Linked DNA regions of Homo sapiens: region 1 is linked to region 2. The links come from fine-mapping of genetic effects on gene expression. A gene starts in region 2. The other region holds a variant in brackets. All regions are shown on one strand. Distances are between the middles of the regions. Region 1 overlaps BRSK2 (BR serine/threonine kinase 2). Region 2 holds the start of DUSP8 (dual specificity phosphatase 8).

Region 1 (15,075 bases), 110 kb before region 2:
CCAGGCTGTGCACTGCCCACCACGTGGGTGCTGGAGTCACAGTGCAGGCCCCTCACCCCTCGTCGGCCTGGCCTCCCTGGGCCGTCAGGCATCTTTCACACATGGGACTATTTTTGCCAAATGCTGCACCCCTGGGCCGCAAAGCAGAGAGTCACGTTTGTACCATCTGTCCTGTCTCTTCATCGGGCAGAACATCGACCATGTAGAAACTCACCTGTGCTTCCAGAACTGCCAGGCTGCTTTGTGCACTTCCTGGCTCCAGGCCCTGGCATGGGGCTGGGGTAAGGTCAGGGCCAGTGGTGGCCCTCGGAGTTTTGAACCCAGAACAGACAGCCGCCGAGACCGGCAGGACACTGAGGAGGCGTCGAGGGGCTGAGTGAGGGTTGGACCTGGTCCCCGTGCTTGTCCGGCAGGACTCCCAGGCCGCACAGTGGCCGAGGAGGCAGCTCCAGGAATGGGCAAGGGAAAGGGGAGTTGTGAGGCCGCTGGGAGGGGCCTCAGAATCAGTCGGGAGAGGGCACCACTGAGCCCCAGCCCTGCTGGCCCCTCCTCCCGGTCCCTGCCTCTGCCTCTCAGCACACCTGGTTCCACCTCCAGGCAGCAACGGCAGGGGACGCCAGCAGAGCGTGCCACCTCTGAACAGCCACCCAGGCGCGCTCTGCCTGAGTCTCGGGCTGTGCTAGAGGCGCCTCTGGCCATGGTCCTCTCACGGCTGGGCTTCCTGGCCCCCGCGCTGGTGGGTGGGGTTCGGGTGCTCTTGAGCTGGAGAGCAGAGGGCCTCTGCATGTTGGGGTGAGCCTGCCAGCAAGACAGGAGTAGCCTTCTGTGGCCTCAGAAGCGCCTCCCCACTCTCCTGTTGGAAGCGAGTTGCAGGCCCCGCCTGCTCCTGGGGGTGGGGGGCACAGCTGACTTCAGGAGCCCAGCTTGAGCCACCTCTCACAGCGGCCTTGGTGAGGGGGGGCTCACCTGTGGGGGGCTCACCTGTGGAGGGGCATCCCCAGACTTGGGAGTGGGTGGCATATGGGCCAGGGTCAGGGCGTTAGGGCTTGGAGAAAGGTTAGGGTTGGGGTTGGGGTTAGAGCCACGGTGATGGTCAGGGCATATGGGCTAGGGTTAGGGCGTTGGGGTCAGGGCCATGGGTTCTGGCTAGCACTGTGGAGACAGCCGTTTCTATCACGAAGCGATGGAAGATTCCGCCGTTCCAACCCCAGATTCGAGGGAGGCAGGGGTGTGGACGGTGCCACACCTCAATCCTCACAGCCTCTGTCTCCCACTGCCCAGGCTGGCGAAGAAGTCCTGGTTTGGGAACTTCATCAGCCTGGAGAAGGAGGAGCAGATCTTCGTGGTCATCAAAGACAAACCTCTGAGCTCCATCAAGGCTGACATCGTGCACGCCTTCCTGTCGGTGAGGCCACAGGGCGCTGGGGGAGGCGGGCAGCCCTCCCAACCCCACACGGCCCAGCCCCGAGAATCCAGCCTCCTCACGTAGACAGGACATGTCCACGCGCACAGCACGGACGTCCGCTCACCCGTGGGCCTGCCTGGCCGCCTTCACTGGACAGGCGCTCTCTCCTGCCCACCCTCGTGAGGGAGGGGTCACTGCCCATCTGGGGTGCTTGGCCTGCGGAGGGAGTCAGGGCTTTGCTCACTGGTCCCCAGCAGCCCTAGGTGTGTGCCGGACAGGCCTGGGCAGCTGGCACGTGGGGCAGAAGGAAGGCTCCAGCTGGGTGGGTCTCAGAGGGGGACATTTCCATCAGACTCGGGGAGAAGCCCTTGTGAGGCCATGGCCCTAGGGACCGGTGGGGCTCTGCTGGCCCTCAGTGGACAGCCCCAGCCCTCAGGTGTCTCAGTTTCCCTGGTCTCACCCTGCCCTCGGAGGCCGGGTGGCTCTCCACAGAGTGGTCGCGCTCGGGGTCTTGGGTGGGCTTCATTTGTCTTTGCTGGGCATCTTTGGGTTAGGAGGAGCAGAAAGGCCCTAAAAGCCTCAAATGGAGAAAGTTTATTGCCAGGACTCCAGCACCCAGTCCCATCAGGACGCCCCTTCCTTGCCGGCCCTGCCCCACCCTGTGCTGCACCCAGCGCCCAGGCATCACAGGGGCTGCCCCCCACCCGCCTCCCCCACCGCCCCCAGCCTGCCTCCCCAGGGCTGCTGTCCTGCCCTGTGCTCACCACTGCCCGGGCGCCCTCCCTGGCCCCAGGGTCTTGGCAAGATCAGGCCGTGGTTCGCTTCGGCAGCCTCTCTAGCTAGGGACTGGCCCCCACCCCACCATATGCTCTGCCCCCGGGCACTCAGGCCACTGCTGCCCTGGCTGCAGCTGAGCTTCCCTTACGCTGTGGGGACAGCTTGGAGCCCCTGCAGAAGGCTCCAGGGCCAGGAGAGCCCAGCGCTGGGCAGGGCAGGCCTCAGACTGCACTTGGACCCTGGCCTCAGGGGTCCTCAGCGTCCCCGTCCCCGTCCCCACAGGCTGCTCACTTCCTCGGCCTCCTCCCTCACCACATCCCTTCATGCTGCCCCTGGTTGCCACGGCTAACCTCAGACTCAGCCCCTCCCCATGCCGGCCCCAGTGAGGCGGCTGTGTGCCAGCCTGGGCCCTGTGCGCTGGGTGGCCCTGAGTTCTGCTTCCTGCAGCTGCCCCCTCGGTACTGTGAAGCCCACCCAGCCAGTGCCCAGCACCATAGGTCCCGCAACCAGTGGGAGTCCCAGGAAGCCCCAGCAGGAGGGCACAGCCCCAGCCCCGCCCTTGCACCTCCCTCTCAGTGGCAGCTCCCAGACCCCCCACCTCCCACTCAGCTCCACCCTGGACCCCCACCTCAGGCTGCAGGGGTCACCTTCCACCTCCATCTTTGCCCTTAAGGCTCCTCTGTAAGGTCCTGGTCATCCTGTGCTGTGGCTGCCTGAGAAAAGCCCGGCAGGGGCTTAGCTGTGCCCGCTAAGTGGACCAAAGCTTTGGAGGGTGGGGGCTGGAAACGCCCCTCCCCCTGCTCCAGCCGTCTCCAACCGCACTGTGCCCCTCACGGAAGCAGAGGTGCCTGGGTGCTCACAATGTGTGCACGGTGGGGCTGGCTCGCCCCAGGGCTGCCTCCCCAGAGGGCCAGGGTGGGACCTGCCAGGCCAGCCACGCTCACGCTGCTCTCTCTCCACAGATTCCCAGTCTCAGCCACAGCGTCATCTCCCAAACGAGCTTCCGGGCCGAGTACAAGGCCACGGGGGGGCCAGCCGTGTTCCAGAAGCCGGTCAAGTTCCAGGTTGATATCACCTACACGGAGGGTGGGGAGGCGCAGAAGGAGAACGGCATCTACTCCGTCACCTTCACCCTGCTCTCAGGTGAGCTGGCGCCCCCAGGGCGGCTCCGGGCCCAGGCCCGTCCAGGGCATAACCCCCTGTCTCCCCTAGGCCCCAGCCGTCGCTTCAAGAGGGTGGTGGAGACCATCCAGGCCCAGCTGCTGAGCACACACGACCCGCCTGCGGCCCAGCACTTGTCAGGTGAGGCGGGCTCAGCTCCGGCCAACCTGCGGCCTGCGAGTGGGGCGTGGCCAGCTGGTGCTGCGCGGACGGGAGGCGTGAGGACCCGGGCGCAGCCTCCTGGCCCCTCTTGACGGACGCCCCCACCTCCCTGCCCCGAGCTGTGGCTGCACCCCTCAGGGAGCAGAGCCCCTCCCTGGCCTGGCGGGACCACCCGCCTCGCCTCTGCACGCCAGGGACATAGGGCGCAGCCGCACCACACTGAAAGGCGCCTCTTGTCCACCGTAGAACCCCCCCCACCAGCGCCAGGACTAAGCTGGGGTGCTGGGCTTAAGGGCCAGAAGGTGGCCACCAGCTACGAGAGTAGCCTCTGACGCTGGCAGGTAAGGCGCCCGGCCTGTGCTGGGGCGGGGAGGGGCTGCGGGCAGGTCCTCGGCGGAGCCAGGCTGGCCCTGAGCAGGGCCCTCCATGCCCACCCACAGGTCTCGGCCCTGGACAGGCCAAGCATGCCCCGGGCGGCCCATCTGCTAGGGCAGCCTGCACAGGACCTGGGAGAGCAGTGACAAGGCCCTGCCCTCGGGACTCCCCGCCATGGCACCCTAGGAGGGCCGCGGGCTGCCTGACGGGCTGTGACTTCTCATCTCTCCATACTTCCTGACAGCCCAGGGTCATGCCTCCAGCAGGGCAGAGGGGCTTGAGCCCAGCCAGAGCGGGGGCTTCACCACAGCCTGATGGGCTCACACAGGGGAGGGTTGCCCCAGCCTGGAACCACCAGGGTCTAGGACCCGAGGGTCCGTGCCACTCGGCATACGGCAGGGAGGGCTCCCCCCACTCCCCTGGGCCCATGTGTGGTGGGGGCAGGGCGGAGCACTGGGCACATGCATGGGCCTGGTCTGTCAGCAAGGGGGTGTGGGTGTGCCTCTGAACGCTGGTACGGCGTGGGGGCGCTGGGCGTCGTGGGGGAGCACCCGGCTGGACCCTGGGGGTCCCCTCTCCCAGCCTGCATCTCAGCAGCTCCGTGGCATGCTAGGGTCACCTCCTGTGTTTCCATGTGGGGTCCTGGAAGCCAAAGAGGGCCCCACTGCCCCTCCCCATGACATCCTCATTCCATCATCATGCCATCACCTGTGGGAGCCCCCCCAGAGTGTGCTTCACCTTGCTGCGGGCTGGGGGCTGAGGTCCCCAACAGCCCTGGCCCTAACCGAAGCCCCAGTGGGTGGAGGAGTAGCCCCCTTCTCCTGATTTTGGGAGCCAGGCTGGCACAGCGGGTAAGGAGGAGCAGGGTTCCAGGTGCTCGGCCCCGCAGGTACACGTGGCGCTTCCCTACAGCGGAGGCCATGCCGTCGGCCGGCAGCAGCCTCTGGCTCTCTGAGCCTTGAAAGCCTTCATCTTAGGAAGGGAAACCGAGGCCAGGGAACGACAGGGCAGCCACCTAGGCCAGGGATGGACAGGGCTTGTCTGGTAGGGCAAGCAGAAACGGGCCCCGGGGTACTGCCCAGGGTGTCCCCGCACCTGAGCAGCCATCTGGGTGCCTCAGTCGAGCGCTCCTGCGTGGGCTGTAGGCAAAGCTCCCCCAGCCTGGCCCCTTAAAGTGTGGTACCGCCTGTCAGCACGCAGCACTCCCCTGGAGCCAACTCCAAGCCCCTCTCCATTCCTGCCCCGGACCCTGACCTCAGTGGAGCCCACTGCAGAGGCTCTTGGGGGTCTATTCTGGGCCCCATCTATCTCCCTGTGGACTTGGGGAGCCCAGCCTATCCCCGTGATCTCGCTACGCCCAGCCCTTCCCAGCCCTGCCCCCCTCCCACACTGGATGCTTTTGTCCAGTGAGCCCAGCTCCAAGGATGTGTGGAAGGTGGCTAGCCAGCAGGGGGCCTCCTCAGACACTGCCCACCCCCCCAGAGACTGCGGCCGAGGGAGGGGAGGCTGAGAGCCCCCAGTGAGCAGGCACAGGCAGACCAGGGCGTGTGTCCACCCTGTGCAGGCGCCAGTGAGGGCCTTGAGGGAGTAGCCCCTCCCAGGGCCTTGCTCCCACCCCAGTCCTGGACTGGCAGCACCAACATCCCCAGGCCCAGCAGTAGGGAAGAGGGCCGAGGAAGAGGGTGCCTGCCTTGAGTTGAAGGGCAGCCGGAAGCCACAGGGCCCTGGAGCTGCTGAGTGGCACAGTGAGGATGCAGGCCACGGCCAGGGCAGAGTTGTCAGCCCAGGGGAGGGGCTAGGCCCACCCAGGGCACCGGCCATATCCAGGCTCAGGCTCAGGCTGCTGGAGGTCCGGCTGCTGCCCAGGTGGCTCCGCCTTGTTCCCTGCCTCCGCAGCCCCGCCTCACTCCAGGCCCTGCCCCTGCACTGCCCCTTATAAGCCCCGCCCCCTCTGGCTCTGGCCCCCCCAGTATTCCCCACCCATGCCTCTGGGGCCCTACCCACTCCTGGCTCCACCCCCTCCCCATCGAGGCTGTGGGCGTCCAGCCAGAAGGCCCAGGACAGCCTTTCACTCACTCCCTCCCTCCTCTCTCCATTCTGTACTCCAGACACCACTAACTGTATGGAAATGATGACGGGGCGGCTTTCCAAATGTGGTAAGAATCCCCCACGCTCACCTGGCACCTCCACCTGCCACTTCACCGCTCACCCTCAGCCCGCTGTGGCCGCCACCTGCCGCCCGGGTTGTCCCGGCCTCCCTGTGTAGATGTAGGCACCCAGCAGCCCAGATGTCCCCGGCCCCATCCTCTACCAGGAGCAGCCCAGGTCGCTCCCCTACCACAGCAAGCCCAGGCGGGGTTCCTGGCCAGACTCACCTCTGCCAGGCCCTAGGATCAGGGCAGGCCCAAGAAGGGGCTCCCAAGGCCTGAAGCCAGTGAGGGTCCCGCTGGTCCCACTGGTGCAGGCTGTGGCCTAGGGGAGGGGCCGGTGCCCATCCCTCTGTCCACTGGAGGCTGTGCCTGGCAGGGAGCGGAGGGGCCCACAGCTCAGGGCTCAGGTGGGGGTTAGGCTTAGGAAGTGGGATTGAGGGGCCTCCATCGACACACCTGGGCAGTGAGCACAGGGCCCCAAGAAGGGTGGGCTCCCCATTTCCGCCCCTCTTCTCAGGACTGCCCCCATCCCAGGGACCCGGGACATGACTCTAGCTGCTTGCCCCCAGCCCCCCAGCCTGCCTCCCACATCCACCCCTCCATGCTTGTCCACCCATCTGTTCATCTGTCTGTCTGCTGCTAAACTGTGTCCAAGCTGGCCAGGGGTCGGGCTTCAGGCCTCTCTGGGGAGGTGTGGTGGGCACACCCTCTCCCTGTCATCCACTGGGCCTCATGCAGTGGGGCCAGCAGCTGCCCCCAGGGTCCTGCGAGGCTTCAGAGCTCCCAGCAGGCCCTTGTCTTTACGCTGTCATCTCCGGCGTTGGGGTGGGTCGGCCCTCACGGCTGCAAGGTGGGGAGGGAAGGGGGGTGGGGCAGGGCCTTCCGGGCCAGGCCTTGGTGGGGAGGGAGGGGTCTCACCACCTGCCCCGAGCCTCGCTTCGCCAAAGGAGCACTGGGTCCTGCGCAACAGCTCGGAGGCGCTGGGGTCCTAAGTTCCTGGCCCCACGGCGCACAGCTTCCCCACCGCACAGCCCCCAGCGTACAGGGCCCCTGCCGGCCGCCGCCTGCCCACCCTGCTTGCCGCCCACCGGTCCCCGCTCGGCCCCATCTCAGCCTCATCTCTGGGTTCTTTCCCTCGTCGAGGCCTCTTCGTTCATTTGTTTGTTTGTTCTCTTTCTCTCTCCTTCCCTCCCCTCCTCTTTCTCTCCCCCTTTTTTTTCTTTTTTCCTTTTTTTTTTTTTTTTTGTCTCTGTTCTGTGTACCCAGGCAGCCCATTGAGTAACTTCTTTGACGTAATTAAACAACTTTTTTCAGACGAGAAGAACGGGCAGGCGGCCCAGGCCCCCAGCACGCCCGCCAAGCGGAGTGCCCACGGCCCACTCGGTGACTCCGCGGCCGCTGGCCCTGGCCCCGGAGGGGACGCCGAGTACCCAACGGGCAAGGACACGGCCAAGATGGGCCCGCCCACCGCCCGCCGCGAGCAGCCTTAGACACACTAGCCCCCCCCCCCAGCACAGCACTGACAGCGGCTGCCTCGCCGCCCGCCGCCCGCCCTGCCCCGAGTGGACCCGCGGCC[G/T]CGCCGCCCGTCCGTCCAGACTGTTCTCAGAGCCTGGGAGGAAAGGAAAGGGGCGTTGGGGCCGGCCTGTGGGCTGCGCCACCCGCGCCCGCTCTCTTTTCTCTCTGTCTCTGCCTCTGCCTGTCTCTGACAGCATCGCTTGTTTCCACTCTGATACCAGGAATTATCCCGAAAAGTTAACATGTCACCTCCACGAGGCCATCCTCTGTGACCGAAGGCAGCTGCTGCGGACCCGCCCTCCCTCCGCTCCTGCTGTTGCTGCCGGGCAGTGAGGCCCAGCCCAGCGCCCCGTCCACCCCGCGGCAGCTCCTCGCCTCAGCTCCGCACGGCCCGTGGGAGGAAGGCCAGGCTCGGGGGAGCCTCCTCCAGCCCGGCCGACCCGGACTCCCGGTCACCTGACCCCTCAGCAAGAACAGCCTGCCTGGTGGCCTTCTGGGGCCAGGACCCCTGGTGGGCAACGTAGCCACAGGAACAGGCCCCGTCCACCGCCTCCACGCCGCACCTGGAGGCCTCCTCGCAGGCCCGTGCCCCGCCTCCCTGGCTGCGCCGCCTCCGTGTAGTCTTGGCCTCCTCAGGCTGCCTCCCGTCCTCTCGTCTCACCCGCGCCTCCCTTGCCTCATCTGGGGCGGCTGTGGGCTCTGGCGCTCCTCTCTGGCTGAGGTGGAAACAGAGACACCCTGCGGCACCAGAGCCTTCCCAGCAGGCCAGGCCGCTGGGCTGGGATCAGTGTTATTTATTTGCCGTTTTAATTTATGGATTCTCCGCACCTCTGTTCAGGGAAGGGCGGCGGCCACATCCCCTGCCGTCTGCGTGTCTCAGGCAGTGGGGGGGCTGGGGCCAGGGCGCCCTCTGAGGACAGAGCTGGTGGGGCGCGGGGGGGCTGGCGAGCTACTGTAAACTTTAAAGAATTCCTGCAAGATATTTTTATAAACTTTTTTTTCTTGGTGGTTTTTGGAAAAGGGTGTGGGGGTGGGGGCGCCGCTGGGGCAGGGCCAGGTTTTGTGTTTTAGTCCCTTGCTCCTGCTTCTTTCTACACACACATCTAAAGACGGTGCGGCTCGCTCTGTCATGGGTTCCGTCTCTCTGTGGAGAAGCAGCTCCACCTCTGGGGGGGCTCGGGGCAGAGGGGCGGTGTCTTGTAGCGGGCGGCAGCGCCAGCGCCCCTCTGTCAGGCTGGGGCAATCTTGGTTTTGTGTCCAAAGGTGAAGGGGTAGGAGGAGGGCCCTCAGCTGGCCCTCCCCACACACAGGACGGCAGGGGCACTGTGAGGCTTTTCTTATTAAAATGAAAAAATTGAAAAAAAAGGACAAAGAGTCGGTGGCGCTCCTCTGCAGGGCGTTCTGTGCAGAGCGAGGCCCAGGGCGCAGCCCTCAGAGGGCTGCAGGCCCACCCTGCCCAGTGCCCGCCGCCGTGCTTCACCCCAGCTCCAGCTTCTGTGTTCCCTTCCGCCCATGTGCCCAGCCCTCCCAGGCGGGCACAGCCCGGGTGCGGCGGCCGTGGGGGACGGCGGGTCTGATGCATGCCTCTGCCATGGAGTCGTCTGTCTGCTTCGGTGCCTGCCCCTGCCTCCCACCCACCTCGTGTATAGATTTTAACGCTTCTGTTAACATTAGACCTCTGCCACAGGCTGGGATTTCTATACATAAGAACAAAAGCAAACACCTAGGACAGCAAACGCCAGGCGGTACAGGCGGGAAGGGGCTCTCCACGGAGATCGAGGACACGAAGCAAACTGCCTCTTGCTTGCCTTCCCCTTTTGTGCTTCGGACACACGCGGACTCCAGCAGGCGCCACGGAAATGGGCAAGCCCCTGCAGTGTACCCCTGTCATAACTGTGAGCAGCTGCAGCTCCGGAACAATAAATCCCTTCCGCAAAGACAGCGACGCAGGTCTTCATCTGGGCAGGGCGGGCGCGCAGGGCTCTGTGACAGCCCGGGACAGCTTCTTGTTCCCCACTTGCAGCCCCTGGGCTGCGCCAGTGTGAATGCAGCTACCCTCTGCCCAGCTGAAGAGGGTGAGATTCCGGGCGGCCAAGGTCAGAGGTCACTTCCGATGTGTGGGGCCATCCCCCGAGGCTGCCCCAGCCTGAGGCGGGCTCCCGTTGAGGGCCAGGGCCTGGGCGGAGCTCTCTTTGCACGGCACCTCTGCCACCCCACAAGGCCTGCACGGCCACCCAGGGCCTGGGCCTTTTCCTGGAGAATGAGCCTTCTTCCCACTCCTTACTTGGGAAGGGTCCGGATAGGGTGCCATGACCCAGCCTTGGGAGTGAGGGGCCCAGGCTGAGCACAGCCCCTGGAGCTAGAGCGGGGATGGTCCCAGCCATACCTGCCACAGAGGGCAGCCAGGGCCGTGGGCTCCACTGGCACGACGCCCTGGCCCAGCTGCCCCTCTGCCGCCGCAGCAGAAGGGCAAGTCCAGGCCCATGCTGTGTGAGGCCAGTGGCCGGGAGTCCACCGCGGCCTGGAGGAGGCCAGCAGCAGGCCTCAGCAGGGTCCACGCAGAGACTGCGGCGTCCACAGAGCTGCCCTGGGAGGCCCACGCACACTTCCCTCCCACGTGAAGGACTCAGATGCGCCGGACTGCACCCAGCTGTCTATCATTGGAGCAGGTGCTAAGCACATGGCTGAGGGGGGAGATGATGATGGGGTGGGGGCCACATCCCTGGTCTCAGCCCAACAGAAGCTAGTAGCTGTCCCACCTCCATTGTGACAAAACGTCCCCAGACATTGCCATGAGTCTCCTGGTAGGGGACAGAATCACCCCCAGGTGAGAGCCACTGCCCTGAACTTCAAGCTGTGCCTGTACCCATCTCTCTGGAGGGAGCCAGGGGGTCACCATGTTAGTCAGGCTTAGTTAGCTCAGGGCTCCGCTCAGAGCCCAGGACACAGAGGGAAGCTGAGCCGTCCTCTGTTTGACCCTGGACTGCCAAGTGGCTGAGCTCACAGGAGGTTGGTACCCTGAAGAGAAGGCACTTGGGAGGGGCCCAGGGAATCAGGATCCATTCCAATCCCTGGATTACAGTTTCCCAGTTCATTTTACCTTAAGAAACAGGCTGAGGAAAGGAATTTGGCTGCTACGGTTCAGTGAGGCACAGGACAGTCTGTGGGGTCGCAGGCTACTGGCCCTGGACCGGAAGCCTTCCTGACCTGTGGTCCTGCACCTGCTTCTCTGAGAGCGGCTGACACACGCACTCCTGGCCCTCCTCTAAACATTCACGGTGAGAAGTCAGCCTTCTCAGGCCCATGACTGGAGGCCCAAAAGGAAACAGTGTGTCAAGAGTCCTGCCAGCTCCCCACTGCTCAGGAAGGGGCTGTGTCCTGCAGTCCCACTTCTGACACCAAGCTCTCTTGGTTGTAAGTAACAGAACCCAAAGCGAGCTAAGCCAGAATCTGCTGGTTTATATAAAAAATGAAAACAAATATGGCAGGACTTCTGATGTGGCAGACACTAGTCTCACTTTACACCAGTCGGTCCTCACATCATTTCTATGAAGAAATTAAAATGGAGATTGAAAAAGGATGTGGTGGCCGGTCTGCCCACCTAGAGGATGGCTTCACAGTCCTGGTCCTCAGTTCCCAGGTGGCTAATCCGACGGACACATCTGGGCTCAGAGCCTGCCACGGCCTGGCCTGAGAGCTAGGGCCCTGGTGAACGAGCCGACTGGTGAGCCCACCCATGGGATGGCAGGTGGGTGGCGGGGGACGACAGTCTGACCCACCTCCTGTACAGGATGCAGGTGGGAGGTGGGTGCTCCAGGGAGGGGCCCTGCACACAGCAGTCCAGGCCTAGGTCTGCTCCATGGGGAGCCTGCCCTGGGCTTTTCCGTCAGCTGAAGGCAGAGGCACAGAGCCCCAGCCTCCTAAGCTATAAGATGGAACAATTCCTGGTGTCACAAAGCCTCAGAGCTTGCAGGAGGCTGATGCCCGCATGCCAGCTTCAAGGTGGGGCGTTCCAGCTGCCCTGCTCCCATCCCGCCAGGGAGCTCACCACAGGTGGACTGGCCCTGCCTCCCCGTCCTGCCTGCCTCCTGCCCTCCAGTGGTGTGGTGCCCAGGCCCTCTGCCCTAAGTCCAGTGCCTCCCCACTCACTCCAGTGACTTCTCCCCATCCCACCCCAACTCCCTACCACCAACCCAAGTCTCTTGGTGTGATCTGGCAAGGGGTCGGGGTCAGCAGAGAGCCAGAGAGGAGGAGGCCAGCAACAGGAGGGAGAACCAGTGGCGACTTTCCAGGCAGCGGGGCCTGCTGGAGAGCGGGCAGGGCTGACAGACGTGCAGGGAACACTACCCGGGGAGCCACGTTCGTGCCAGCCAGACTGGCACAGTCTACACTGTGGGTCTCATGCCGGGGAGTTGGGCCCTCTTGTGCACCTGCCCCCAGGACCCTGTAAGAACGCCTTGGCCTGCTTGGTAGATGCATTGTCTCCTGTGGTTTCCTATCACCGCCATAGTTACCGCAAAGTAAGAAGCTTAAAACACCAATACCTCACAGTCCCAGAGTCAAGGACTGGGCAGGTCTCACTCAAGGGGTGCCCTGGTCTAGAATCAAGGTGTGCTCCTCCTGGAGGCTCCAGGGGAGGACCTGTGGCCGCCTGCATCCCGTGGCCTGGGGTCTCCACCTTCGCAGCCAGGAGCGTGGGTGGAGCCTCCTCACAGCTGTGTCCTGCGCATCCCAACCTGCGTCCAGCTTCCACGATGAAGGCCTCGTGCTCTCACTGGGCCCAGACCATCTCTGCCTCTCAAGGTCAGCTGATTGCCTTAATCCCATCGCTGCTTTCATTCCCCTTTGCTGCTGGGTGGCACGTTCACTTCCATGGGACTAGATGTGGACATCACCAGTGGTAAGGGATGTCTCAGGCCGAACGCAGTACCCTCCCACTCCCGCTGCTTCACACCCATCCCACGTGCAAATGCATCCCTCCCCTCACGGCCCCAACAGTCTCCACCAAACACAGCACCCAGTCCAGTCCCAAACCTCACGTACAGCTCATCAGCTCACAAGTCGCAAGTCGCACCCTCTAAGCTACCCCGATCAGGTATGGGTGACACTCTGGGCATTCCACCCTGGGGCAGTTTCCTCTCCATCTGTGGACCCCGAAAGCTAGAAAACCAGTTACCTGCTCCCAAAATACGACCAGAGAACAGACGCGGAATGCCAGTCACAGACACTCCTGTTTTCAAGGAAAGTTTGGCTGGGTGTGACGGTCCAGCACTTTGGGAGGCTGAGACAGAAAGGATCACCTGAGTCCAGGGGTTCAAGACCAGCCTGGGTAGTGAAACTTCAACTCTACAAAATATTTCAAAATCAGCCGGGCGTGGTGGCTCGCACCTGTGGTGCTGGCTACTCAGGAGTCTGAAGGGGGAGGACCCCTTGAGCCCGGAAGTCTGAGGCTGCAGTGAGCTAGGATTACCCAGCACTCCAGTTTGGGTGACGGTGAAACCCAGTCATTTATATGTGCATACACACACACACACACGTGACACACAGAGAAAGCTGCAAGGTGCTTGTGTCGCTGCTCCCAAGAAATCCAAAATCCAGCTGGGTACACTTCCTCCGTCCCAGCAAGGCCTGGGAACTCCTTCTGTGGGTCCCAACTCTGCCTCTGTGCTGACACCTCCACCCTCAGGGCCATGCTCTCTATTTATGAAACGTAGCAAGTGTTTGCAGCTGAACAGTTTAGTCTGCTTCCTGCCTGCTGATTTTTGGGGCTCAAGAGCCTTTCATCACATCCCCTCTGCCTCAGTCCAAGCCAGCTGAGTTTCTGATGGTTTAAGAGCCTCTCGTGGTTCCCACAGGGCTTCACCGGATCCGTAAGACCCAAGGCTCGTCCACAGACCCAAGGCTCGTCCACAGACCTCCCACAGCGGTCCCTGCTTTGAGCATCTGCTTGGGTGACCCGGGGCATCCACCAGCCACAGGCTCGCCCTCCTCCAGGAGCTCTTGGTGTGGCCGTTACTCTGAGCACACATTCCTGACAGTGAATCTCCTGACATCAGCATCTTCAGCTGAGAATTCCCGATGGCAGGGTGCTCACCCCTCTGCTAATGTCCTTCTCTCACTTAGTGGCCAACCTGAGCAGCGCAAGGGGCCCAGGCTGACCACCCTCGAGTGCTGCCCGCACGTGGCAACGGGACAGAGTGCAGCTGCACCTCTGCCCCCATGGACGGGGCTCTCCCTGGCTCCCGTTCTTTCCTTTCCCTCTGAGCTCCCACCTGCACCTTTAACCCCACATGTCCGAGGACGGGCGGGTCAGAGGGGCTCTGACTCTTCTCAGAGCCCAGGCTGGTTCCTCCGAGCCCCTCGAGCCCCGCTCGCCTCCATCCTTCTACCACCTGTTTAACAACATCACGGGCTTTTTCTATCACCCTCAAAATTCTTTCAGCCCAATTCCAAAGCCACTTCCACCTTTCTAGGTATTTGCTACAGCAGTGCCTCATGCCTAGAACCAAAATCTGCCTTCATCTCCTGTTGCTGCAGTTGCCATGAACTTCGTGGCTGGAGGCAAAATGAACTTACCTCAAACGGACCTCACCGGGCTAGTCTGCAGGGCCAGTTCTTTCTGGGTGCCTTCCTTTCCCAGCTTCTAGGAGCTGCCTGCACTGCTGACTCAGGCCCTTCCCACGCCGCGCTGTCTTCCTCCGCTGCCTCCCTGCTCAGTGCCCTTGGCTCTCCTGACAACACTGGGCCCATCCAGATAACCTCCCCTTCCTCAGGTCAGTGACCGGGAACCTGATTCCATCTGCAGCTTCCATCCTGCTGTGCTATCTAAGGAGACAGTCTCTTAGGATTAGGACACGGATCTCTTTTGGAGACCATCATTCTGCCTTTCAGAACACAGACCATAGATAGAGACTTAGTGAGCCATGGCTGCAGCTGGGGGCGAGGCTGAGCCCTCAACACTGAGACCCCCCTCAGTGTACAGGCCTCCTGTTCACGGAGGGAAACGGAGGCAGAGGCAGGAAGGCTTGACCAGGACTCCAGGTCTTACAGCAAGAACCCATCCCAGTGGAGGACAGCGCACAGCACAGTCCCCTCAGCCCAGGAGAGGGACAGGTCCACCAGACAATGGCCTAGCAGCAGGCGCCCCCAACGCCCAGCGCCAGCCCTCATCCCAGGCACCCTTCCCAAAGGAACTCATGCCCGCGACTCCCACGTGCCCTGGGGACCCTGCAGCTGCATCCTGAGTGTGAGACCGGCACGAATGCGCGCCCTGGACACCTCCTAAGGCCGTCCCACGGGCTCCACACACGCTCCATCTGAGGCTGCCTTGGAGGCTCTGGCTGGAATCCCGGTGTCCTCCTAGCCCCTTCAGCCCCAGTGGAGCTGGCCCCCAGCCCCCTGTGCCCTACAGCACTCTCAGTCCAATCTTCCACCCAGCCTCCGCTCGGCAGCCAGGCCCCAGGTTCGCCAGCACACAGCGACCCAGGCTGTGTGCCAGGCTGGCTCCCTGTGGCCTCAGCCAGGAGCTCC
Region 2 (15,075 bases):
AGCGGCTGTCGATGACCAGCGGCCCCCCAGGCCCGCCCCGCAGCAGGCTGGCCAGCTTCTTGGCATCCATCACCTTCCTCGGGAGCCGGTCCCCAGCCATGGTGGGGCAATGGGTGCTGGGGAGGGTGACCCCTGAAGTGAGGAGGGGCTGCTCCGACGGCCCAGGTGTGGCCTCGCGCTGGGAGTGACCTAGCACATGGTGCTGGACCTGCAGGGACAGGGGGATGGTCAGCAGTGCTGCGGGCCCCTGGGTGGCACCCAGAAGCTCCCCAGGACAGATCAGAGCTGGGAGCTGCGCCCACCAGGACACACCAACATGTGCCCGTGGGAACCCTTCTCCCTCTGGAGAGACCCCGTCCAGGTCACAAGGCCAGCTCTCAGCAGGATGCAACAAGGCAGAGGGGGGCAAATGGGCCCCACAGAGAAGGGTCTGAGGGCTGGAAGAGGCCAGGGGTCCTTCCTGTGGGCCCTGGGGTTCACGGACCCTTAGGCATTCCAGAACATTCCATCTCATCCCTGGGACACAGGCATCTCCCTGCTGTGACTTCTGCATCTTTTCCACCACAGGACCCCCAGCAAGTCGGGGTCTGGACTGCACCTCACCCTCCCACATGGTCAAGCTCTCTGCCCTCCTCCGGGCTTGCTGTCCTCACACCTGCCCCTCTCTCCCTAGCACAGCCCCAGGGAGTCCAATCCCTGGAGACTTGACTCCAGGGCAGCTCCGTAAGCCGATAATCCAGCCCCTGGTGGATGGTGGCCTTGGGGCTGCCTCCACTGGAGAGTGGGCTCCCGGGGGCAGCCGGATAGCAGGCGGGTGCGGGAGGGGCTCAGGCACAGAGGCACGGCTCCTTTGCCACTGCTGCCCTCCTGACCTGCAGGCTGAGGTTTAGTGTGCGCCACGTGCCTGCTGGGGGTGAGTGCCCAGCTCCTGCAGGGGCGTGTTGCACCCACACAGTGCCTCTCCCCTAGCGGAGCCTGGGGTCTAGGAGGCTCCTTCATGGGCTGATAGGGCCCAGGATGGGAGGGGCGGGGCAGCCCTGGGAGGAGGGTCAGTGTCGGGGACCCCGCAGGTGCCAGGCCCTCGGCATGGCCTGCAAAGGCCTCAGACTGCCGGGTGGGCAGGTGGAGTAGGGATGTCTGAGGATGGAGTCTCCGGAAGCCCCTCCTGCAGGCTTGATGACAAGCCTGTCACTGCCCCACTGCCGGGCCCCATCTCCCTGTCACCTGCCAGGACTGGCCTTCCTCTGGGTCCACTTTACACTCACAGCCCCTAGGAGGCGCATAGTGTTAAGGATGATGAGTTTGCTTTAACTATGGGGAAACCGAGGCTTGGGGCAGGGTTGGGACCTGGGTCACACCTGGGTCACACACAGATGGGCACTGGGTGTCCCTGCAATGCCATCTTCCCTGTGCCCCCACAGCTGCCAGGCAGTCAGGAAGTTTACTCCACCCAGCTCAGGACTGAGGGAAGGCTGGGAGATAGATGTACCCTGGGCCCTGCGCCCTGTGCAAAGCGGGCTACGGTGGGTAGCGGGCCCTCAGCAAGCCAGACCCCCAACCCACAGCCACAGGAGGCACTGGGGGGAGGCGCCCTGAGGACACCCATGCACTGCAAACAGCAGGCTGGGGACAGAGGCCACCACCGTTTCTGGACTCTCCAGGTCAGCTCCCAGGCCGGCGGGGGCCAGTGAGAGAGTTCACAGAGCAGCAGGTGCAAGGCTGGTGTGGACCTCGTCCCTGGCCCAGCCCCAACTCCACACTGAGGGGCAGGTCCCAGCTCCTCCCTGCCCAGGAGCCCCAGCCTCGCACTCACTCTCCTTCTCCAGACACTTCAAGCTTGGCCCCTGCCTGGCCCCTCCCGCCTCGACTGGGCCCAGGCTTCTGTGCATTCCCACCATCCCTCCTGTTGCCAGAGGCCAGGGAAACACCTGACTGTGGATGGGCAGCCTCAGCTGACCCCACGGCTGACACCAGGGATTGCAGTGGCACCTGGTCAGCAGGGCCTCAGGATCCCACTCAGATAACGTTCCTGGGCTGGTGCTCCAGCCTCCACCACAGGGTGGGGAACGAGGCCTGGGAGTCCTCTCCAGGGCCAGACCCAGCAAGTTCAACAGCAAAAGGGCCTGCTGCCTGCCTGCTGTGGAGGGTCTCTGCCTGCCAAGGGGGTCCCTGACTACCCACAGGGGGTCCTTGATGAGCTGTTTGTCCTTCCCGAGTTCTACCTGAGCCTTGCACAGGTGGTGAGAGGCGAGGGCCCAGATGTGTGGTTCTGGTGAGACAGCGGCTCCAGGTGCCCCGTAGGATACCCAAGGGTCCAGCTCAGAGACCCAGAACCCCGAGAAGGCTGCAGTGGCAGGGACACTTGGGCTGGGGGTCTTTTGAGGAGCTGCCCCGGCCTCAATGTCCTCATCCGTTAAGTGGGGGTGGATTCTCTCTCACTGAAAACAACAGAAGCAAATACCCCCCAGTGCAGGGAGGAGGGCAGGTGTGAGGAGAGGCCCTCGCCCTCTCTGCAGCCAGGGCCTAGCCTTCATGCAGCCCTGAGTCCTGACACTGCCATGAGAGACCTCGGTGCAGCCAGCCAGATCTGAGACCCAGAGGGAGGGGAGGGAGGAGGGCAAGTCCAGCTGCAGGGTGGTGGGCAGGGGCTGGAGGGGCGGGAGGACGGGTCCTGGCCTTTACCTGGCCCTGCTCTGCCTCCTAAGCAACGCTGAGCTGGAGCTGGGCCTATCACCCACAATAGTATTGTTATTTGCAGCCGAAGGGGATTCATTAGCAAGTTAGCACCTCCATCGTCACCATGGCAACAGCAGAGGTGCCAGGCAACCGCTGCTCCTGCGGCAGCCACCACCATGGAGCAGGCTCCTCTGCAGAGTGGGCACGCGCCCCTCCCTGCTCTCTCCTACCCACCCCAGCAGGTGCCCGGCAGTGCAGAGCCCAGTCCTCAGCCCCTCCGCTCCTCTGCCCTACCTGGTCCTAACCTTCCTTCCCACTCCAGGTACCTGCTGTGCCCAGCATGCTCCCTGCAGCTCGCCGGCTCCCCGCCCCCTCAGAGGCCTTCTCTGTACTGCGAAGGGCTGGCCGAGTGCCCCCTCCTGCAGGAAGCCTCTGTGCCATGCTGGCCTCTGGGAGAGCATCCTCACCCACAGGGTCTCCCTGGACCTACAGCTCCCAGGGGGACATGTTCCTCACCTCTGTCTCCCCAGATGCTAAGGATCGGGGCTCAGCTATGCCAGGGATGGGGCAGGTTGGGTGGGGTGGGGAGCAGAGACACTAAGGACAGTCTGGTGCAGATCAGTGGGGCCAGCACTGGCCATGTGGGAACAGAGGTAAGGAAATGTGGATGGTGTTGGTTCCATGCCTCTCCTTTCACGGCCCCACATGCCAAGCCCTCCTGAGTACCTGTGGCCCTGCTATTCCAGTGCCTAGGGGTTGGGGGGTGAGAGGCAGGGCTGGGGACAGGATGCCCCCTAGCACAGCCCCATACACCCTTTTCAAAAGTCTTTGAGCCCAGGAGGAAGCAGTTTCCAAGTCCAAAGTCAGAAGAAGGCTCCTCCCAGGCCCACACCTTCCAGGAGGCACCAGGCCGCCACCCTCCCCTGGGACACAGCACGCCTGGCTCCAGTGCTGCGTGCACACTGCCCTCTGTGCGTGCCAGAACACACCTCTTTGCACACCCACTCCACACACAGGGCTGGTGCTCCTTACCCACAATCCACCTGCCCTGTGTGCAAGTACCCACGCGTGAATATGTGCACACGCGTGGGCTGGACATACACTAGAGTACACGCACGTCCTTGCCCTCTGTATGCAGGATCCCCTGAGAACCCCAGGACTCCAGTACCCGAGGGGTCAGCTTCAGACTCCTTACAAACACGAGCTCCCACACCCAGCGTCTCTGTGCAGCACATTCCTGTCCCTGAGCACAGACGGGACCAGGGAGTCCCAGGCCACCCCCAGCTCTCAACTGACAGCATCCTTACCATGTTACCTTCTGCTCAGCACCTAGAAATGGGGACTCACTACCTTCAGAGACAGCTGCCAGGACTGTCAAGCATGGGGGGATGGGACTGTGTCTCCCCCTCACACCTAGGCAGGCTCTTGGAGCTGTCCGGCTCACTGTTACCCAGGGATGCTTCTGGAGGCAGAAATCGTCACACTAAGGAGGCTGAGGAGAGACTGGTGGGTGGCAACTCTGGGAGGCAGGGACCCTGCACTCACACAGGTCAGCTCATCTTCCCTCACTGGGCTCCCCCAGATGCCCTCATCCCTGCCTCCCCTCAGCTCCCTTGGCTAGTGCTGTAGGACCCAAGCTGGCCTACACTCTGCTCCGCTGGCCTGGGGAAGCTGTGGACCTGGGAGAAAGTGGGGTGGGGCGGGGGGCTCCCTCCGATCCCAGGAACGGGGTCCGGGCAGGGCAGGGGATGGGAGGACTTGGCACAAGGGGCCGTGACAGTCGAGTCTCAGAGCCGGACATATCCAGGTTCCCTCCCTTCCCACCAGACCTGTGTCCCTCCTCCTGGTCACTGTGCCACATGCTAAACATCAGGACCAGTGTGGCGCTTCCAAGGTTCACTGCCCTGAGCAACTCCGGCAGAGGGGGCCTCAGCGGGTGCAGTTCTCATGGCCAGAGTCCAACCACCTCTCTCTCACTGTGGGTCTGCCCCTTTCCCTGCCTTCTGCAAGAAGTGACACCTAGGTCTCCCCAGGCCCTAGCTGATGCCCCTTCGAGGCACCTGTCCAGTGGCAGCCTCTAGGCCCTGACTTCAGCCCCAGCCTGAGAAGAGAAGGGTCCTGGAGCAGAGACTGACTCTAAGCGTCTTTCTGCACCTCTGTTAATGGGACTTTATTCCCAGAAGCCTCCCCGAGGACAGAGGATACCAGGGGAATAGAACCTGCCCAGCCACACTCGTGCAGCCCCCGGCTGGCTGCAGCAGGAGGTATTTCAGCGAGACTTCAGGATGAACTTCCAGCTGGGGTCACATGATCTGCCATCCGCATCCAGTGCTTATTAGCAGTGAATGCATGGGACTGTCCTCCTGGTGGAGGGCTGGGGCCTGGGGTGCTACATTCACCCCTGGACCGCCCTAGGTGCAACAGTGTCTCTGGGTGGGCTGTGCCAGAAGGGAGGCAAGGGAGAGTGCCGGGGTTTGGATCTCCCCTCAGACCCCCCGCTGGGGCACAAAAGGAGCTTCCCTGGCCTGCAGCACCCCACCCCCACCCCAAGCTGCACAGCAAGAGCACTGCGGAGCCACGCTACATCCTGCCACCCCCTCCTCCATCCCACAGTGTCCCCGCCCCCCATCACTGCAGCACCAGAGCCCCTATTCCCCTCAGCAGAGGCCGGTACACCCCGCAGCAGGGAGACGGAGGCAGATTCTCCCAGAAGGGGTGACCCTGTTGGGGCTGGGCCTATTGTTGCCCCCTCCCCTCCAGGCCAGACTATTAGGTATCCCCACCTGGTCTGCTCCGCATCCCAGGCTGGGCAGCTGGGCCTAGCGAGGTGGCTGCAGCAGCCTGGCTGTGCCAGCCCCTCCCCCAGCGCCGCGGCTGCCTCTGCAGCAGGCGGAAGGGCGCGGGGGCTTTATCCCTCAGGGGCCGGCTGGGCACCCCGGGATGGGGAGGCAGTGCGGCCTGGACACTGGGGGGATGGATCTGCAGCCCTCCCCCCCGACAGGGGAAGGCCCCTTCCCGGGTGTCCCAGGCCAGAGGCCGTCGCGTCCCTCCCACGGCCGAGGCTCCACACCTCCCGGACCGACTCCGGGCCAGGGTCCGCCTGCTCCGGTTCTGGCCCCCGCGGGGGTGACGTTCGGGACGTCGGGGGCTCGCGCAGATCCGCGCTGGATCTCAGGCGGCCCTGGTGGGTCCTGGATTTTTGTCCCCCCCCCATTCCACACCCAAAGAAGGAGCTGCGGGGAGAAGGGCGGCAACGCGGCGGGCGGGCGTGGGCTGGGCCCGGGTCCGCCGGGCGTTGCGGGGGGCGGGGAAGGGGCCTCCCTGTCCCTGGCGTCCTGGACGGCCGTGGCCGCTCATTCCGGGGCCGCCTCCTCCTCCCGGGCGCCCACCGGGTGCCGCTGCCCCAGCGCCCCCGACGCGGCGCCCTCCGCCCCCCGGCCCGGGCCGGTGAACCCCATCCCCGGCGCCCGCCCCCGCCCCGCCGGCGCCTCCGCTCACCTCGCTCGCGCTCGCCTCGGGGGCGCTCCGGGGACCCGCGCCGCGCTCAGGGCGCCCGCTCGGCCGCGCCGTCCATGGGCCCGGCGGGGGCCCGCGCAGCCGGGGCAGGGGCCGGGGGAGCGCGCGGGCCGCGTCGCCGTCGCCGCCGTCGCCGCCGCCAACGCCGCGGGGAGCGCTCGCTCGGGCCGGGGCGCGCGCACTGCGGGCGGGCACGCGCGCTCGCGGCGCGCATCCCAGCCCCGCGGCTCGGCGGGCGCGGCCGGGAGGTTCCGGCGCGGCTCGGGCTCGGGCTCGGGCTCGGGCTCGGGCGTCCGGCGTCCGGCGGGGCGTCGTGGGGGGAGCCGGCTCGGCCGCCGCGCTCGGCCGCGAGTGACAGGCCCGGGGCGGAGGGCGGGGCCGCCGGCGGGGATGAGGTCATGCCGAGCGAAAAAAGCCCCTGACGTCACCTGCAGCCAATCAGCGCGCGCGGCTCGGGGGCAGGTGACGTCAGCGGAGCCCGGGCTCGGGGTGAAGCTGAGGCGGCTGCCGCGGGGGGGGGGCGGGGTGCAGGGTGCGGGTGGGTCGCGCCGCCGCCGCCTTCCGCCCTCACCCCGGGACCGGCTCTTAAAGGGACCACGCGGCGTCCGGGACCCCGCCTCCAGGAAGCCCTCCCGGCCCCGGGCCCCGCGTCACCCAGGCCCCCCGTCACCCGGGCCCCCGGCCGCGTCGCACAGACCCCGGACGGTCCAGCTGAGCGGCTCCGGGCGCGAAGTCCTCCCCCCGACCCGGACAGGCGCCGGCGCCGCTCCCCCCTTCTCCTGGCCTTTGTTGGCGCTGGGCCGCCGCCGGGGAGCCCTCCCCAGACCCAGGCGCGGCGTTTTACCTGCAGCGGCTGTGCTCGCCCCGCCGCGACCCCCGCAGGACGGAGCCGGATCCCCCTGCACTCGGGCGGACCTGGGACCCTCAGAGGCGAGCCGGCTGCCTCGGGTCACACATCCGCGAACTCCGGGGGCGGGCTCCCCAGGACGCCGCCGACCCCCCACGACCCCCAGCCCTCCCGCTTCCGTGGAAAGCCGCCCCGACGACCCCTGTGCGGGCTGTTGAGGGGCCGCACCCCGCCGACCGCTGTGGGAACACCTCCGCGCGTGCGGCGGGGACGCGGCGAGTCCGGGGCAGGAAGAACGCACGGGTAATTGCACCTTCGGCAGGTGTTGGGCGGGAGCAAGGGGGTCAGACTCGCGCTGCAGGGGGAGGGCGGGGGAGGCCTCGCTGTCCTGGAGGAAGGGGACAAAGACCCCTGCCCAGGAGCCTGGGAGCCTTTGAAAGTAATGATTTTTTGGCGGGGGGGGGTTGTCACGAGACACCCTAGACATTTCTAAAAGGCCCCCTCCCCGCTGCCGGGTGGAGAGGGAGCGTGGGGGGATCCGCCTTCTGCCCCCGAGCCCCCAGCCAGCCTGGGCCCCCCAGGGTCACCCTGGGGCTCTGAAGGGGGCTTCGGCCGCTGGTTGAATGAAGGGCCACAGAAAATGAAGCTGGCGCAACGACCGCAGAACCCTCAGTGGGCACCAGGACCACGGAGCTCAGGGTGCCAATGGTGATGGCTGGGGGTGGGGAGTACTGTGGGCAGCAGGGGATGCTGAGCGGGGTTTGGGGCTCCCCCTTTCCATACTCAGTCTTCCTGCCAGCCTCAGAGCTGAGTACACCGTTGGCGATTAATAAGCGCTTGCAGCTCCCTTCCCTGGCCAGCCTGAGGGGAGCGGCAGTGGCCCGTATGGGGTGGGGGTGGCGGTGGAGTGCGTCCTGGCGCAGAGCTGGCACACAGCACAAACAAACGCCTTGGCGGGAGTGGGTCTGTCCCGGAAGGGAGCCCAGGGGTTATTGGGGTTGGGGCTGCGCCCCAAAGCGGGAGGGCCCTGCGAGAAGGGAGGCCCTGGCTGGAGGGGGACCCTGAGACTGGAGGTGCCGGACCCGGATGCGGGGCCAGGTGAGTAGGGCTGCCTGCTGCAGCCTTGCTGGGTTTGAAAAGTGGGGGAGGCTTGGCCCTGGGAGGGGGCAGGAGGATTCAGGCTGAGACCCGGAGGGGGCGAAGGAGGTCCTTGAGGAGGCAGTCACAGGCCTGAAAGGACCTGGGACCCGCAGGCATGGGAGCTGTTAGCCGTTAGATAGAGGGGCTGTCGCCTGGGGGGAAGCCTCACCTGGCTTGTTCCCCCTGCCAGGCCTAGGTGAGCCCGATGGGCGTGTCTTCTGCCCAGCTGGGATGTGGCCAGCATCTGCCTGTGGCCTGGGAGTGCCCATTGTCCCCTAAGAGCTCTGGTTATACCCTGGGCAGCTACTGGCCAGGCTGGAGCAGGTGGCAGGCAGCGACCTTTAGTCCCTCCTGGAGGCTCCCAGGGGGCGGTTTGGAGGGGAATACGGCTCCCCTGGAGGGCCTGGGCTGTCCCTGGGGGGCAGAGTGCCCTGGGCGGCGATTGTTATAATCCCCGTAGCCATTTTCATGCAAATAAGCACTGAGAGCGTTAGGTTCTGCCCCTAACCAGGCTGGCGGACTAGGGAGGTGGCACCCTGGGGAGGACGGTGGTTTTTCTGCAGCCCCGCCTTAGTTCCACGTTGCCTTTGCACCCAGCAGAGGCCGGCCTGGGCGGTGGGCTCAGGGGCCTGGGTGCCCGACCAGGTCGGCTCGGCTCAGCTCAGCTCGGCGGCCGCACCGCCTCCCGGCACAGGTGTGGACGGGGGTGGGAGGCGCGACCAGGGAGGGGGCTGCGGTGTCAGTCCCGGCCCGGGCCTGTAGACGCCGCCTCGGGGGTCTCTGGGGCTCGGGAGGACCTTGCGAGGGGCCGGGGAGGCGCCAAGGCCGCGGCGAGGGACGTGCGGGGGTCCAGCAGCCTGGGGCGGGGACGCGCGCTCCGGGCCGTGCAGGTGGGGGTCCGAGCGGGGCCGGCCCGGCGGTTCGCGCGCGCCCTCTGCCGTCCGCAGGCCGTGGCGCAGGCTCGGCCGCCTGAAGCTCCTCTCGCCTCCGGGAGGACGTCCAAGGTCGTTTCTTAAAGCATCCCTATTGCGCAGAAGGAACAGTGGGGTTCACTTTTCTCGCTAATGTGCATATAATCGTTGCAACTAATTATGTGTAGCAAACCTCCATGCCACTATTTCCCCAACTTTTTTAAGTCAAGGCATAGCTAACTCAATACAATGCCCATCCCAGCTGTTCAAGTAGACTTTTTCTCCCGTTATTTCTTTAAAAACCGTATGATTTTTTCTTGTGGTAAAATGCATGCAGGAACATACGGTGTGCCATATTAACTATTTTTAAGTGAATTTGGCAGCATTAAGTACATTCACTTTCTGTGTAACCGTCACCACCACCCATCTCTGGAGCTTTTCGTCTTGGAAAACTGGAACTCTACTCTGTCCTCATTAGACACCAACTTCCCAACCCCCTCCCCAGCCCTTGGCACCCATTATTCAAGTAGATTTTTTTTTTTTTTTGACGGAGTCTCATTCTTGTCGCCCAGGCTGGAGTGGAGTGGTACGATCTCAGCTCACTGCAACCTCCATCTCCTGGGTTCAAGCGATTCTCCTGCCTCAGCCTCCCAAGTAGCTGGGATTACAGGCGGCCACTACCATGCCCAGCTAATTTTGTGTGTTTAGTAGAGATGGGGTTTCACCATGTTGGCCAGGATGGTCTCGAACTCCTGACCTCAGGTGATCCTCCCGTCTTGGCCTCCCAAAGTGCTGGGATTACAGGCGTGAGCCACTGCACCCAGCCAGTAGATGGGTTTTGACAACTGTATATGTAGTTTTATCACCATCAAAATGAGACCTAGAAACTTTATTATCCCAGAAGTTCCCTGGTGCCCTGTCCTCACCCTCTGACCTGTCACCGTGAGTTACTGCTATCTGTTCGTACACTTTATAAAAATGGAAACAATGGAAACAAACAATGAGAGGACTTTTGCCCCTGGCATCTTTCACTCAAGGAAATACTTTTTTTTTTTTCCAGACAGAGTCTCTTTGTTCCCCCAGGTTGGAGTGGAGTGGCGCGATCTCAGCTCGCTGCAACCTCCGACTCCCGGTTTCAAGCGATTCGCCAGCCTCAGCCTCCTGAGTAGCTGGGATTACAGGCGCCCGCCACCACGCCCATCTAAATTTTGTATTTTTTAGTAGAGATTGGGTTTCACCACGTTGGCCAGGCTCGTCTCGAACTCCTGACCTCAGGTGATCTGCCCACCTTGGCCTCCCAAAGTGCTGGGATTACAGGCGTGAACCACCTTGCTTGGCCTTAAGGAAATACTTTTGAGATTCGTCCACATTGCTGCTTTCCCACAACCTGATGATAACGTCTGTGTGGTTCTGTATTTCATGGGTGTATGGCAAGAGTGGAACCAATTCTTTATTTTTTACATATTAGATTATTTTCATATTTGGGCTATAAAAAACTGCAGCAGGCCGGGCACGGTGGCTCATGCCTGTAATCCCAGCACTTTGGGAGGCCGAGGCGGGTGGATCATGAGGTCAGGAGATCGTGACCATCCTGGCTAATGTGATGAAACTCTGTCTCTACTAAAAATCCAAAAAATTAGCTGGGCGTGGTGGCGGGCGCCTGTAGTCCCAGCTACTTGGGAAGCTGAGGCAGGAGAATTGCTTGAACCCGGGAGGCGGAACTTGCAGTGAGCCGAGATCGCACCACTGCACTCCAGCCTGGGTGACAGAGCGAGACTCCATCTCAAACAAAAAACAAAAAAGAAAACAAACAAAAAAACTGCAGCAGACAGCATCCTATTGTATATGCTTAAAAAAAGAGATATGGGATCCCTCTATTTTATCCAGGCTGGACTGAACTCTTCCTGGGCCCAAGTGATCCTCCTGCTTCAGGCTTCCCGTAGCTGAGATTATAGGCACGTGCCACCACACCCAACTCTTACATGTTTGTAACACACTTCTCAGATTATTTTTCTTTCTTCCCTCTCTCTCTTTCTCCATTTCCTTCATTCCTTCCTTCTGTCCTTCTGTCCTTCCTGTCTTCCTTTTCTTTCTTGACAGGATCTCACTCTGTCACCCAGGCCAGAGGGCACTGGTGGAAATATAGCTCACAGCAGTCTCAACCTCCTGAGCTCAAGGGATCCTCCCATCACAGCCTCCTGAGTAGCTGGCACTACAGGCATGTGCCAGCATCTCCAGCTAATTAAAAAAATTTTTTTTGGCCAGGTGTGGTGGTGCGTGCCTGTAATCCTAGCTACTCGGGAGGCTGAGACACCAGAATCGCTTGAACCCAGGATGCGGAGCTTGCAGTGAGCCAAGATCGTGGCACTGTACTCCAGCCTGGGCAACGGAATGAAACTCCATCTCAGAAAAAAAAAATTTTTTTTGTAGAGATGAAGTCTCACTATGTTACCGAGGCTGGTCGCAAATTCCTGGGCTCAAGCAATCCTCCTCTCTTGGCCTTCAGCCTTCCAAAATGCTGGGATTACAGGATTATTTTCTTTCCTAGTTTTTTTTTTTTTTTTTTTGGATGGCATCTCGCTCTGTTGCCCAGGCTGGAGTACACTGGTGCGATCTCAGCTCACTGCAACCTCCACCTCCTGGGTTCAAGCGATTCTCCTGCCTCAGCCTCCTGAGTAGCTGGGATTACAGGCGCCTGCCATCATGCCCTGCTAATTTTTGTAGTTTTAGTAGAGACAGGGTTTCACCATGTTGGCCAGGCTGGTCTCGAACTCCTGACCTCAGGTGATCTGCCCGCCTCGGTCTCCCAAAGTGCTGGGATGACAGGCGTGAGCCACAGCGCCCCCTGCCCCCAACTCCCATGTCCCCAGATATTGCAAAGTTGCCCTGAGTGGAGAATTCTAATAACTTGCCAGCAGGCTAGAAGAACTCCATTTAAAACCCTTGCCAGGGCTGGGCATGGTGGCTAACACCTGTAATCCCAGCACTTTGGGAGGTTGAGGTGGGCGGATCACCTGAGGTCAGGAGCTTGAGACCAGCGTGGCCAACATGGTGAAACCCCATCTCTACTAAAAAATACAAAAATTAGCCGGGTGTGGTGGTGGGCACCTGTAATCCCAGCTGCTTAGGAGGCTGAAGCAGGAGAATCCCTTGAACCCGGGAGGTGGAGGTTGCGGTGAGCTGTGATTGTGCCATTGCACTCTAGCTTGGGCAACAAGGGCAAAACTCTGTCTCAAAATAAAATAAAATAAAACCCTTGCCAACACTTGGGATTTTATGCATTTTGATTATAGCTGCATTACTTGATGGGTTGACTAGGAGGACACTGGAGTGTCTTCTCACACAGACTCCATATTTAGTTTGAAGACGTCCTTCTATATTGCCTTATAATCTTCCCCAGGGAGGCCTTACAGTCTTCCCATTGCGTATATTACTCCTGAGCTTATGATTTCGGTTGCTTTGTGAAAGGTTATAAAAACCACAATTTCTGATGTGTTGTTGCCTGTCATGGGCTGGCTGTCGATCACCCTCTCTGACTTCTCTTACTCCTCCAAGCAGGCCGCCTGTAGGTTCACTTGGATTTCCCAGGTAGATGGCCCTATCATCTATGAATCTGCACTTTCGTTTCTTTCCAAACCTCACATTGCTTGTTTCTTGTCATATTGCATGGGCTGGCATCACCATTATAATGCTAAGTGGACATGGTGATGGTGGGAGTCTTAGCTTCCATTCCCCAGAAAGTAGCCAGATGCAAAGCTCAGTGTACACATTTTCTGGAAGGGAGGAACACACCGAGCCAGGGAGGAGGTGAAGCTGAGGCAAGGCTGCTTCTTACTCAGCTGCTGTGGCTTTTTGGAAGTTGCAGCTCAGCTGGCCACGTCTGCACACCCTCTCCCACGAGACCATACAGCGATGCTCCACCTCAGAATGGTCCACAGGGAGGAGGAAGGGAGAATAGTTTCTCTGCAAGCTCCTTCCTGTCTTCTGCTCTCATAGGTCAGAGTTGCTCTCCCGAGGAATTAAGTTCCCTGCATCTTCAGGTGGTGTTACTGGCCCCTCTTGGCAGCTGCTGGGCAGGCCAGAGTGTCTGAGGGTTTGGGGAAGCTGGCACATTGTGTGGAGTGAGAGAGAGGTTCATTAAAATTCCCAATTATTCCTATACATTCCCAATTATAGTCCCAATTGTATTTGTGGATTTATCTATTTCTTATTTTAGTTTTGTCAATGTTTGCTTTATATGTTTTAAAGCTCAGTTATTTGGCACATAGAAGTTTAGGATTGTTTTCTGTTTGGTTGCATGAACTCTCCTATCATCATGAAATGTTATCTCTTCTAATAATGGTTTTGTTTCAAAGTCCACATTGTCTGATCTTACTATCATTATACTAGGTTTTTGAAAACATTAATGTTTGCCTAATATATCTTTTTTTTTATTCTTTTGCTTTCTATCTTCCTGGATCTTGATATTTAGGGTTTGTTTTTTCTAAACAACATGCATCTTATTTAACTTCTCTCTGTTTTTTTTTCTTTCCTTTTTTTTTTGAGACAGAGTCTCACTCCGTCACCCAGGCTGGAGTGCAATGGTGCAATCTCGAGTCACTGCAGCCTCTGCCTCCCAGATTCAAGCGATTCTTGTGCCTCAGCCTCCCAAGTAGCTGGAATTATAGGCACGGGCCACCACACCTGGCTAATTTTTTGTACTTTTAGTAGAGACGAGGTTTCACCATGTTGGCCAGGCTGGTCTCAAACTCCTGACCTCAAGTGATCAGCCTGCCTTGGCCTCCCAAAGAGCTGGGATTACAGGCATGAGCCACCGTACCTGGCCTAATTTCTGTCTTCTGTTAGCTTCCGGGTTATGTATTCATTATCCTTTAATGGCTACCTTAGAGATGGTTATATTTATTTATTTATTTTTTTGAGATGGGGTCTCACTCTGTTATCCAAGCTGGAGTGCAGTGGCATAATCATGGCTCACTGCAGACTTGACCTCCCAGGCTCAGGTGATTCTCCCACCTCAGCCTCCTGAGTAGCTAGGACTATAGGCACCTGCCAACACACCCGGCTAATTTGTGTATTTTTGGTAGAGATGGAGTTTTGCCATGTTGCCCAGGCTGGTTTTGAATTCCTGGTCTTGAGCAATCCATCTGCCTTGGCTTCCCGAAGTGCTGGGACTACAGGCGTGAGCTTCTGCACCCATCCAGAGATTATGATAACATATTATCAGTTAATAATCTCGTGTCTTCATAAACAAGGCAAGAACCTTACAACTATTTAATTCTGTTTATCCCTCTCCTGACTTCTGTGCTGTTGTCATATATTTTACTTCCACAAAGTTTAAAAATTTTATAGGACATTGAATATTGTTTTATTTATTTATTTAGAGACGGAGTCTTGCTCTGTTGCCCAGGCTGGAGTGCAATGGTGCAATCTTGGCTCACTACAACCTCTGCCTCCCAGGTTCAAGCAATTCTCTTGTCTCAGCCTCCGAAGTAGCTGGGATTACAGGTGCCCACCACCATGCCCAGCTACTTTTTTTTTTGTTTTTTTTTTGAGATAGAGTCTTGCTCTTGTTGCCCAGGCTGGAGTGCAGTGGTGCGATCTCGGCGCACTGCAACCTCCACATCCCGGGTTCAAGCGATTCTCCTGCTTCACCCTCCTGAGTAGCTGGGACTACAGGCGCATGCCACTACACCCGGCTAATATTTTGTATTTTTAGTTGAGACAGGATTTTACCATGTTGGCCAGGCTGGTCTCGATTTCCTGACCTGTGATCTGCCTGCCTCGGCCTCCCAAAGTGCTGAGATTACAGGCGTGAGCCACTGTGCCCAGCCCTTGGCTACTTTTTATATTTTTAGTACAGACAGGGTTTCATCATGTCGGCCAGTCTGGTCTTGAACTCCTGACCTTGTGATACACTCACCTCGGCCTCGCAAAGTGCTGGGATTACAGGCGTGAGCCACCGTGCCTGGCCCTTGGCTACTTTTT

The links.
Region 1: its variant is fine-mapped to the expression of DUSP8 in whole blood (TOPMed, PIP 0.93).

The regions. Positions count from the first base shown.
Region 1 is chr11:1,453,204-1,468,278 of GRCh38, forward strand. It overlaps BRSK2 (BR serine/threonine kinase 2), which reads left to right. Exons shown (of 20, transcript NM_001256627.2): 16 at 1,282-1,405; 17 at 3,145-3,325; 18 at 3,395-3,484; 19 at 5,989-6,036; 20 at 7,297-9,486. The coding sequence ends at 7,520. Among named protein-coding and RNA genes, the nearest start is that of MOB2, 26 kb to the right of the region's middle. RefSeq lists enhancers at 1-525, 4,777-5,339. The variant G/T (reference allele first, on the strand shown) is at 7,607.
Region 2 is chr11:1,565,727-1,580,801 of GRCh38, forward strand. It overlaps DUSP8 (dual specificity phosphatase 8), which reads right to left and starts at 6,545. Exons shown (of 7, transcript NM_004420.3): 1 at 6,175-6,545; 2 at 1-208. The coding sequence starts at 100. KRTAP5-AS1 (KRTAP5-1/KRTAP5-2 antisense RNA 1) reads left to right here and starts at 7,015. Exons shown (of 2, transcript NR_021489.2): 1 at 7,015-7,342. RefSeq lists enhancers at 1,267-2,205, 2,206-3,144, 3,145-4,083, 5,599-6,146, 6,695-7,240.